Linked DNA regions of Homo sapiens. The protein of the gene in region 2 purifies or fractionates together with the protein of the main gene of each other region. This does not show direct contact. Each region holds a gene or a part of one and is shown on either strand. Other genes may lie near its edges.

The links.
Region 1: the proteins of GDPD1 (region 2) and AHSG purify together in Homo sapiens (affinity purification with mass spectrometry; 3 studies listed by BioGRID and IntAct, with this or other methods). This does not show direct contact.
Region 3: the proteins of GDPD1 (region 2) and KNG1 purify together in Homo sapiens (affinity purification with mass spectrometry; 3 studies listed by BioGRID and IntAct, with this or other methods). This does not show direct contact.

Annotation. Positions count from the first base shown.
Region 1 is NC_000003.12:186,616,057-186,619,810, forward strand, and holds part of AHSG (alpha-2-HS-glycoprotein isoform 2 preproprotein), read left to right. Parts: intron 1-386; coding exon 387-471; intron 472-1,127; coding exon of another isoform or gene 1,128-1,130; coding exon 1,131-1,294; intron 1,295-2,479; coding exon 2,480-2,581; intron 2,582-3,754. UniProt on the Homo sapiens protein: Promotes endocytosis, possesses opsonic properties and influences the mineral phase of bone. Shows affinity for calcium and barium ions.
Region 2 is NC_000017.11:59,223,501-59,227,254, reverse strand, and holds part of GDPD1 (lysophospholipase D GDPD1), read right to left. Parts: intron 1-3,754. UniProt on the Homo sapiens protein: Hydrolyzes lysoglycerophospholipids to produce lysophosphatidic acid (LPA) and the corresponding amines. Shows a preference for 1-O-alkyl-sn-glycero-3-phosphocholine (lyso-PAF), lysophosphatidylethanolamine (lyso-PE) and lysophosphatidylcholine (lyso-PC).
Region 3 is NC_000003.12:186,727,233-186,730,986, forward strand, and holds part of KNG1 (kininogen-1 isoform 1 precursor), read left to right. Parts: intron 1-4; coding exon 5-112; intron 113-3,754. UniProt on the Homo sapiens protein: Kininogens are inhibitors of thiol proteases.

The DNA.
Region 1 (3,754 bases), on a different chromosome or scaffold from region 2:
GTGGTGACGGGCACCTGTAAATCCCAGCTCCTCGGGAGGCTGAGGCAGGAGAATCGCTTGAACCCGGGAGGTGGAGGTTGCAGTGAGCCAAGATCCTGCCATTGCACTCCAGCCTGGGCAACAACAGTGAATCTCTATCTCGAAATAATAATAATAATAATCATCATCATAAATAAAATTGCCATTTGATGCCACTTGCCCTGGGGCTGATTTTTACAAGCGTTTAACTATATCGTTGTATCCCTGAAAGCAGAGAGTGCCATGTTTCAGTATTACCCAGCAAAGGCGATTTTGCAAGGGTCACCTTTGACAGCCGTGCCTGGAGGGAGCCTGCCCGGGGTGCGAAGGGGAAGGGCAGCCATCCTCACGTGGGTTTCTTTCTCCAGGCTGTCGAAGGAGACTGTGATTTCCAGCTGTTGAAACTAGATGGCAAGTTTTCCGTGGTATACGCAAAATGTGATTCCAGTCCAGGTACAGATGACTATTCTTATTCTCATTTTTTCCTTGTAGAGAAAGTGGGGAAGGGATCTGAATAATTTTCAACTTAAGTAGTTCTAGCAGCTTTGTCGGTGAGGAAAAGGAGAAGCCAAATTTCCTGGGTTCTGGGATTTTTAAAATTGTGTTTTAAGAAGCTACTCTTGGCCTGGTGCGGTGGCTCACGCCTGTAATCCACCCACCCGAGGCAGGTGGATCACCTGAAGTCAGAAGTTCGAGACCAGCCTGGCCAACATAGTGAAACCCCCATCTCTACTAAAAATACAAAAATGTGGTGGTGCTCGCCTGTAATCCCAGCTACTAGGGAGGCTGAGGCAGGAGAATCGCTTGAACCTGGGAGGCAGAGGTGGCAGTGGGCCGAGATCGCACCACTGCACTCCAGCCTGAGTGACACAGAGTGAGACCCTGTCTCAAAAAAATAAGAAGTTATTCTTACTGGAAGTGAAAATTGCCTCGTGATGATAAGAGCTCCTGCAGAAATGTCAGCATAGCAAAAGCCTTTTGAAGGTTTAGTAAGAAGCAGAGAAAGTGCCTGAAGCTATCTGGGGAATGCCTTAGCCCTTGCTAACGCAGCAGAGCTGGGGCCATGCCAGGGAGAATGGCTGCCCACATCCTGGTTTCCTCTCTCCGAGCAGACTCAGCCGAGGACGTGCGCAAGGTGTGCCAAGACTGCCCCCTGCTGGCCCCGCTGAACGACACCAGGGTGGTGCACGCCGCGAAAGCTGCCCTGGCCGCCTTCAACGCTCAGAACAACGGCTCCAATTTTCAGCTGGAGGAAATTTCCCGGGCTCAGCTTGTGGTAAAGACTGAGATTCTTTTGACAGGTTGGGCAGTTCGGTGGCACTTCGGGAATGTACTGTACGTGGTGGAGCGGGAGGCAGGGAAGAACAGGCGCAGGGGCAGCGATGAGAAAGCAAGGAGAGGGTTGTTTGGAAAGGGAAGAAAGCATCCTAAGGGGGTATGAGGCTCCTGAGTGTCATGAGGACCCCAACACCCTCAGCGCCTCCCCCATGCTGAGCCACTGTAACGTCCAGCAGCCACAGCTGCCGGCAGGTACATCCCCACTCCCTCCGTTCCAGCTAAAACCAAAGCTCAGTGTCAGCTGGTAGAGTTGCCCACGTCGGCCAGAAGCACTCACTGTAAATTTGCTGGGCTCCAGTACCACCCATCTCCGCTGAACATCTGCCACAGACTCGTAATTAATACTCACTTGTGCTGACAAGCTTATAATGGCAAGATCTTAAAATGCCTTTCGAGTCACTGGAGAAAACATCTCATTGTACTGTGGGTGGTTTAGCACATTGGAATTCAACAGAATTCAAATGTTTAAGAAAATGTATTCTGGATATCAGCCATGGCCATACTTGGAAATACGCTAGTATAGACGGCAATTCTATTAATCAGAATATGTGATTCTCAGAACATCCCCACCCCAGACTACACCAAATAACAGATATTTTATTGTGTCCATATGCTCCAACTACTTTAAAAAAGAAAAGCTCAAGTGATATCTTCCATACTTTCATCTAAATCTTTTCATTTGAGCCTGCTCTATGAAACAGGTGGAAGAGGTATTAATCTCTTCACTTTCCCACCCTATTTTGGAATAACCTGAACCTTGGGTATCAAGTGCAGCCCAAGAGTGAGGGCTGGGGGGAGGCAGGGTTCCCACTCCTATCAGTCTAATGCTGGCCTTCTGATTCCGGTTTCCTATCTGCAAACTCACCTCCACCCTGAAGGACCGGTGATGGATACTTGCCCCTCCTACAAGGAAGACACAACCCCTACCTCTAAAGCACAAGCACTTGAGAACACAACCCCATAGCAACTGCCCTATGTAAGCCATTGAGGGACATGTCTTCTGGGCCGACGCATGGTCTGCATGAATGGTGCTCCCCGAAGGAGGCTACTTCCCGCTCTCCTTCTCTGCCCTTTTCATTGTAAGTCATCTTTCCTCAAGAGCATTTTCATGTACTCTTCTCAGCCCCTCCCACCTTCTACCTATGTGGAGTTTACAGTGTCTGGCACTGACTGTGTTGCTAAAGAGGCCACAGAGGCAGCCAAGTGTAACCTGCTGGCAGAAAAGGTGAGTGGGCCGGGACCTTGGGGTGTTACCACTCGGACAGAGCTGTTTGTGGAACAGAACATCCTTGGATAGTTTGTATCTTGGGGCTGCAGACAGAGAATAACAGTGCAAATCCCCTCTCCCTGTGGATCACGGCAAGCCTTCTTTTAGGGTGTCACCTCATCCCTTTAAGAGCTGTCATCAAATCATCTCACCCACTGGAAGCACATGAAGTTAGGAGAAAGAGAGAGGCTATTTGCTAATGAAGCCAAGTCACGCCCACCCACTGGGAATGTGAAGTGCACATTTTCTAGACATATAACTCTGATACAAAAGCTTTCAAGTCCTTGAGCCAATAATGTACACTTCTAGGATTTTAGTCTAAAGAAGTCATCAGTGGCCAGGCATGATGGCTCATGCCTGTAATTCCAGCACTTTGGGAGGCCAAGACGGGTGGATCGGGAGGTCAGGAGATCGAGACCATCCTGGCTAACATGGTGAAACCCCGTCTCTACTAAAAATACAAAAAAATTAGCCAGGCTTGGTGGTGAGCGCCTGTAGTCCCAGCTACTCGGGAGGCTGAGGCAGGAGAATGGTGTGAACCCAGGAGGCAGATGTTGCAGTAAACTAAGATCGTGCCACTGCACTCCAGCCTGGGCAACAGAACGAGACTCTGTCTCAAGAAAAAAAGAAAAAGAAAAAGAATTCATCAGTGACATTTGACAGAATATATCTATAAAAATGATTTATTATGGATATAAAGAGACCAAAAAAGAGAGATCTGTATGTCCAACAGGAAGGTGTCATTGAATAATCCATGCACATCAGTAAATAGAAAATTGTGCAGACACTAAAAATTGTGTTTTCAAGGAATAATGAATGATATGAGAAAATGCTATTATGGCAAGTGAAAACACACAGGATACAACATCGTATAGTCACAATGATCTCAATTTTTAAATCATATTTAATAGTATTTTAAAATAAGAAAGAAATGCATCAATGTTAACAGTCCTTCTTTCTAGGCCACCACCAGAAAGGGATTATGGGTAATCTCTCTCACTCTCAAAGTATTTCTGTATTTCCATGTTATATATAGAATCATATACCTCCCACAAGCAGAAACTATAACTTTAAGAAAAATGGTTTTTCAAACTAATTTAAGGTTGGCGCGTCAATGAAATTGGGGGGGAT
Region 2 (3,754 bases):
TAGAGACGGGGTTTCAACATGTTGGCCAGGCTGGTCTCAAACTCCTGACCTCAGGTGATCCTCGGCCTCCCAAAGTGCTGGGATTACAGGTGTGTGCCACCATCACCAGCTTAAAATGTTTTAAAACTAAAACATTTCAGTGTTACCAAATAATTGATGAAATATACAGAAAAATACTTTGGAAATAATTTTCCATACACTTTGGAAAAACAGTCAATTTCTTCTTAATAGAAAGAGACAATTCAATAAACTCTCAATAAAAAGGTACTGCTCAGGGTGGGCGCGGTGGTTCATGCCTGTAATCCCCACACATTGGGAGGCCGAGGTAGGTGGATCACCTGAGGTCAGGAGTTCAAGACCAGCCTGGCCAACATGGTGAAACCCCGTCTCTACTAAAAATACAAAAAAAAAAATTAGCTGGGTATGGTGGCAGATGCCTGTAATTCCAACTACTCGGGAGGCTGAGACAGAGAATTGATTGAACCCAGGGGGCGGAAGTTGCAGTGAGCTGAGATCGCGCCACTGCATTCCAGCCTGGGCAACAACATCAAAACTCCATCACACACACACACAAAAGGTACTGCTCAAAGTACCTAAAGGACTTAAGTATTAGCATTAAAATGTTTTATATACAATACCATCTGAACATATTTGTATTAAATTTTTCTTCTTTTATATTGTTAGGTTGTATTTTTATGATGACCTAATTAATAATCAACAGAAATACAAGATATGCAGAAACAAATACATTAGCTTTAATATGCTAAAATTTTATAACTTTAGCAGAGGGAAGATACCCACGTAAAAACAAAAAACTACTAGTTTGATTTTAGGTTCACTTGGTTACTAGAGTTGATGCATGATAGAAAACAGATGCAGTAAATATGAAGGGTATAGGTTTTTTTTTTTAAGTCTCCTTTCAAGGTTAGATAACCCTTTACTGGATGAGGCTAGTTGGCCCTTGTTTTGATCTAAAACTATGGAAATACATTATATTCAGATAATATTCAAAAACAAAGCACCACAAAATATTTCTAAAAAGACAAGAGTGCTAAAGGGGTTACCAGTAAGTTAAGTTAAACTACTGACCACTTGTACCAAAGAGCAAAGAAATTAAAAGAACACAAAAGCCAGCTTGAAGGACCTCTCACTGGACAAATCTGGGACAGTGCTAGCATCAAAATAATGATAGTAAACAGATTTTTAAATCAGTGAATAAGAAATTCTGAATCCAGGCTGGGCACGGTGGCTCATGCCTGTAATCCCAGCACTTTGAGAGGCAGAAGCTGGTGGATCATCTGAGGTCAGGAGTTTGAGACCAGCCTGGCCAACATGGTGAACCCCATCTCTACTAAAAGTACAAAAATTAGCCGGGCATGGTGGTAGGTACCTGTAGTCTCAGCTACTTGGGAGGCAGAGGCAGGAGAATCACTTGAACCCTAGAGGTGGAAGTTGCTGTGAGCTAAGATCCCACCACTGCACTCCAGCCTGGGAGACTAAGCAAGACTTCGTCTCAAAAAATAATAATAAAATAAAATAAATTTTGAATCAATTTTAATAAATGGATTGATAATTTGTTAAGGAATTGGGTATTTGTGTAGTTTTAAAGTATCTCCCTCCAAAAATTGGCCGAGCACAGTGGCTCATGCCTGTAATCCCAGCACTTTGGGAGGCCGCGGTGGGTGGCCTCTTATTAATTATGAGCCTTTTCTCTTATTAATTATAAGGAGAAAAAGTAACCTCACAGTGGAAAAGCTTGGCAGACACCACCTCATCAAGTGATCAAAGTCAACTTCATTAGTTCCTTCAAGCTGATTTCTGCATCCTTTTAACTACCTTGCTTTGAAAATAGGCCAGGTGTGGTGGCTCATGCCTGTAATCCTAGCACTATGGGAGGTGAGGCAGGCTAATTGCCTGAGCTCAGGAGATCGAGACTAGCCTGGGCAACATGGCAAAAACCCATCTCTACTAAAAATACAAAAAATAAAAAATAAAAATTAGCTGGGCGTGGTGGCACCACCTGTAACCCCAGCTATTCAGGAGGCTGAGGCACCAGGATTACTTGAACCTGGGAGGTGGAGGTTGCAGTGAGCCGAGATCATACCACTGGACTCCAGCCTGGGCAACAGAGCAAGATTCCATCTCAAAAAAAAAAAAAAAAAAAGAAAAGAAAGAAAATAATAAACACATTATATGTTAAAATAACATTTTTATGAAAAGTAACTGTTTTTCTAAATAAAATAATGTATGAAAAGAGTGGTATTGTTTTATATTTTTGCAAATCTCTTTAATATCTGACTTAACAGAAAGCAGCAAGATTCTCATATCTGCTTCATATATACCCATTGTCACACAGATATGTAGTTGGAAATGAGTCTTCTTTGATATGGCATCAAATTTCAATAAGTGGTAATTTGTTTACTTTACAGACAGGGTCTTGCTATGTCGCCCAAGCTGAAGTTCAGCGGCTATTCACAGGCACGATCATAGCAACAACCTCAAATTCCTGGGCTCAAGTGATCCTCCTGCCTCAGCCTCTCAAATAGCCGAGACTACAGGTAGGCACCATCACACCCGGCTCAACAAGTCGTAGTTTTTTTTGTTTTTGTTTTTTGTTTTTTTTTTTTTTTGAGATGGAGTCTCGCCCTGTCGCCCAGGCTGGAGTGCAGTGGCGCGATCTCGGCTCACTGCCAGCTCCGCCTCCCGGGTTCACGCCATTCTCCTGCCTCAGCCTCCTGAGTAGCTGGGACTACAGGCGCCCGCCACCACGCTCAGCTAACTTTTTTTGTATTTTTAGTAGCGACGGTGTTTCACCATCGTTAGCCAGGATGGTCTCGATTTCCTGACTCCGTGATCCGCCCGCTTCGGCCTCCCAAAGTGCTGGGATTATAGGCATGAGCCACCTTGCTCGGCCCACAAGTGGTAGTTTCTTACAAGTGGTAGTTTCTTAAAAGGTCATTGCAATATGGAATTTGAACCATATGAGTAATCACTTCATACTCTATTATGTGAAAATCCATTGGCCCATCTTGAACTTTGAATGATCTTTCACCCATGCATGATTTTATAATAGCATGCATAAATCATTTGGAAACTATTGATTCATTGAATCATGCTGGTCTTCTATATGTTGACACGGTATGCAATATTTTAAAAATCACATTTGTTAACATCTGAGTTCATTAGGAAAGTCTTTAAGAATTAAATGATGTCAAGCTCATCATGATGGCAGTGATTGCATCACTGCCCTCCAGCCTGGGTGACAGAGTGAGAACTTGTCTCAAAAAAAAGGTGGAGAGAGAAAGAGCCATCTGTCCATCTGTGATTCAACCCCTCGGAGTGCCCTGACGGAGTCTCGCACTGTCGCCTGAGCTGGAGTGCAGTGGCACCATCTCGGCTCACTGCAACCTCCGCCTCCCAGGTTCAAGTGATTCTCCTGCCTCGGCCTCTTGAATAGCTGGGATTACAGACATGTGTTTTTGCAGTAGACATAATATTCTAGAAATAGAGTAGATATTCAAGTTTTAGGTTATGTCAATTCAGTTGCATATACTTTATACACATAACATGATTAATGTTTCAATGGTCACATATCTAATTTACAAGAAATATCACTGTTTCCTTACTTATAGGGAAAAATAAGTAAATATCAGGTATTTGCAGTTATGGCAGTAGAGAATAAGCCCAAATTGCACAGAGAGACCAGTGATTGCTATTATCCGTGTCGAAGACAAAAATTAAAGGCAATCAATGG
Region 3 (3,754 bases), on a different chromosome or scaffold from region 2:
TCAGGTGGTGGCTGGATTGAACTTTCGAATTACCTACTCAATTGTGCAAACGAATTGTTCCAAAGAGAATTTTCTGTTCTTAACTCCAGACTGCAAGTCCCTTTGGAATGGTGTAAGTAGGCAAAAATTTAATGATAAAGTTCTTAGCATTTTGTTTACATTTTGTGGTAACTATCAAGCTGGGTGGGAAGACTGTCACGAAAAGTTTAGATGACATTCAGCAATTCATATTCACATTTACTTGGGAAGACTAAAGCTCACGTCACTGGTCAAGCTGCCTTACCTAACTGGCCAAAGAATCTGCACAGCTAGCAATAAGTATTTTTTTATAACTTTATTTTATTTTATTTATTTTTTGAGACAGGATCTCAATCTGTTCCCCAGGCTGGAGCACAGTGGTGTGATCTCATCTCACTGCAGCCTCCACCTCGCATGTTCAAGCTATTCTCCTGCCTCAGCCTCCCAAGTAGCTAGGACTACAGGCGCCAACCACCACGCATGGCTAATTTTTGTATTTATAGTAGAGACAGGGTTTTACCGTGTTAGCCAGAGTGGTCTCGAACTCCTGACCTCAGGTGATCCGCCCACCTTGGCCTCCTAAAGTGCTGGTATTACAGGCATGAGCCACCGTGCCTGGCCAGCAATAAGTATTTACAGAGCATAACCAGGGACTACGAATAGATAAAATGCTTGAACGGTCAACTGTATCTTTGTTATGTCTCCACACTTTCCCATTTCCTTTTCTTCCCCAGGTGCTCAATGCCCATATGGTGTTCCCTTGCTCTACCCAGGGTTATTCTTCATGTCAAACTTTTCTCTGTTTGTTTTCTCATCTTCCCTTCCCTACCTTTATCTTTAATAAACAGACCCTGAGTCTCTAGCCCTTAGTGGTCCTTCTTAGCATCGTATCTTGTTATCTGAACCAAAATTATATTAAAATGGTATATCTCAAGGTAGTAGTAGCTAGCGAATGTTAAGATGGCGAAGACATGATATGTGCCCAGGGATGTTTGCATTTGAGCAGAAGACTGTGCTTTAGCCAAGGAAATGCTGCAAGTCCTTTGATCTAGTAATTCTGCTTCTAATTCATTTATATGGGAAATCCAGACCATAAGATGTTAATGTCAGTTGTTTTTTAATAGAAAAATATTGTAAACAAATAGTTTATGCAACATTACAGAATGGTTAAGTAAATTACAGTATATCCATACAGTAGAATATGATACAGCTATCAAAAATTTTTAGTTTTTAGTGACATAGTAAAACGGTTACAATGTTAAGTAAAAAACAAAAAAAGTGGGATACAAAACTATACATACGGATTTATTTAAATATGTAAAATAAATGTAAATACAAAAAGTGATGGAAAACAAATTATGACAAAATATAGAATGTAGTTAACTTTCAGTTGGAATTGTGGGTGCTTTTTCTTTTTTGAGAAGAGGTCTTGCTCTGTCACCTTGGCTGGAGTGCAGTGGTGCGATCTCGGCTCACTGCAACCTCTGCCTCCCAGGTTTAAGCAATTCTCATGCCTCAGCCTCCCTGAGTAGCTGGGATTACAGGCGCCCGCTGCAACGCCAGGCTAATTTTTGTATTTTGGGTACAGATGGGGGTTTTGCCACGTTGGCCAGGCTGTTTTCGAATTCTTGATCTCAGGTGATCCACCCACCTTGGCCTTCCAAAGTGCTGGTATTACAGGTGTAAGCCACTGCATCCGGCCGCTTTTTCTGATTCTTTATATTTTTTGGAAGTTTTTGATATTTCCCGAGTTTTCTAATTGAGCATGCATTTATTTTATAATTGGAGAAAAAAGTAAAAAGGACACTATCAAGAGAGTAAAAATACAACCCACAGAATGAGAGAAAATATTTGCAAATCATGTATCTGATAAGAGTTTAACATGCAGAATATATAAAGAACCTCTTTTTGTTCATAAAATAACAAGTATTAGAAAGGGCATGGAGAAATTAGAACTTTTGTACATTGCTGGTAGGACTGTAAAATGCTGCAGCCATTATAGAAAATAATTTGGCAATTTCTGAAAAACTTAACTATAGAATTACTATGTGACCCAGAAGTTGCACTCTTAGGTATATGCCCAAAAGAACTGGAAATGCATATTCAAACACGTGTTTATACATGAATTTCTATAGCAGCAAAATTCATAATAGCCAGAAAGTCAAAACAACCCAAGTGTCTATCAATAGGTGAATGGATAAACAAAATGTGCTATTATATATACACAATGAAACACTGTTCACCCTTTAAAAAGAATGAAATTCTGATACATGCTACAATGTGGATGAAGCTTGAAAATATTATGTTAAGTGAAATAAGCCAGACACACACAAAAAATATTGTATGATTCCACTTATATAAAACACCTAGAATAGGCAAATTCAGTCAGAGACTATTGGAGTTGCTAGAAATGTAATGTAGGCTTTTCTTTTTTTTTTTGAGACTGAGTTTTGGTCTTGTTGCCCAGGCTGGAGTGCAATAGCGCGATCTTGGCTCACTGCAACCTCCGCCTCCCGGGTTCAAGTGATTCTCCTGCCTCAGCTTCCCGAGTAGCTGGGATTACAGGCATGTGCCACCACGGCCGGCTAGTTTTGTATTTTTAGTAGAGATGAGGTTTCTCCATGTTGGTCAGGCTGGTCTCGAACTCCCAACCTCAGGTGATCCGCCTGCCTCAGCCTCCCAAAGTGACTTATCACACAGCACCTGGCTATGTTTGTTTATTATTCTTTTTTCCCCTCACTTCTGGAGACCTAGGCATAGGTCTTTCTATTTGTTTGTTCTATTTGTTTGTTCTATTTGTTTTTCTCCCTCTGTTTTTAAATTATGAAATCATGTCGAGTCAAAAATTAACTTAGAATGCTGTTCTAATAACATTATATGGAATTCTCATTTTTGTTATTTTGTTTTTTTTTTCCTTATCCAAGAAAGACCCTAACTTTATTGGCAAGCATGTTTATATTTCCAAGTATATTGTTTTTGTTTGTTTAAACATGTTATGAATTTTTAGAGATTATTTTTTCTTTTTGGTGCTGAGGTGAAAGAACATACCCTGTATTGTTTCTGCTTTGTAAAATGTATTGGATCTTTTTGTGACCTGGTGTAAAAACAATTAAAAATATTTGTATGATACTGGCCGGGCACGGTAGCTCATGCCTGTAATCCCAGCATTTTGGTGGGTGGATCACTTGAGATCAGGAGTTCGAGATCAGCCTGGCCAACATGGCAAAACCTCATCTCTACTAAAAATACAAAAAAATTAGCCGGGTGTGGTGGCAGACGCCTGTAATCCCAGACACTTGGGAGGCTGAGGCAGGAGAATCACTTGAATCCAGGAGGCAGAGGTTGCAGTGAGCTGAGATTGCGCCACTGCACTCCAGCCTTGGCGACAAAGAGAGACTCCATCACAAAAAAAAAAAAAAAAAAAAAAAAAAAAATATATATATATATATATATATATATATATATACACACACACACACATATATATATACACATATATATATACACATATATATATACACACACACAAATACATACAAATTAGTATGATACTTATGAAAGTATCATTTAAAATCATATGTAGCATATGAAAATACCATTTAAATAAATCTTTAATATGTTATTCAAATCTTCTATGTTCTTGTTTATTTTTTATTCACTTGCCCTGTCTTAGATTTGTAATTGCATACTAAATTTTCCCACCATATTATTTCTATCCATTTCTATTCACGTGTAA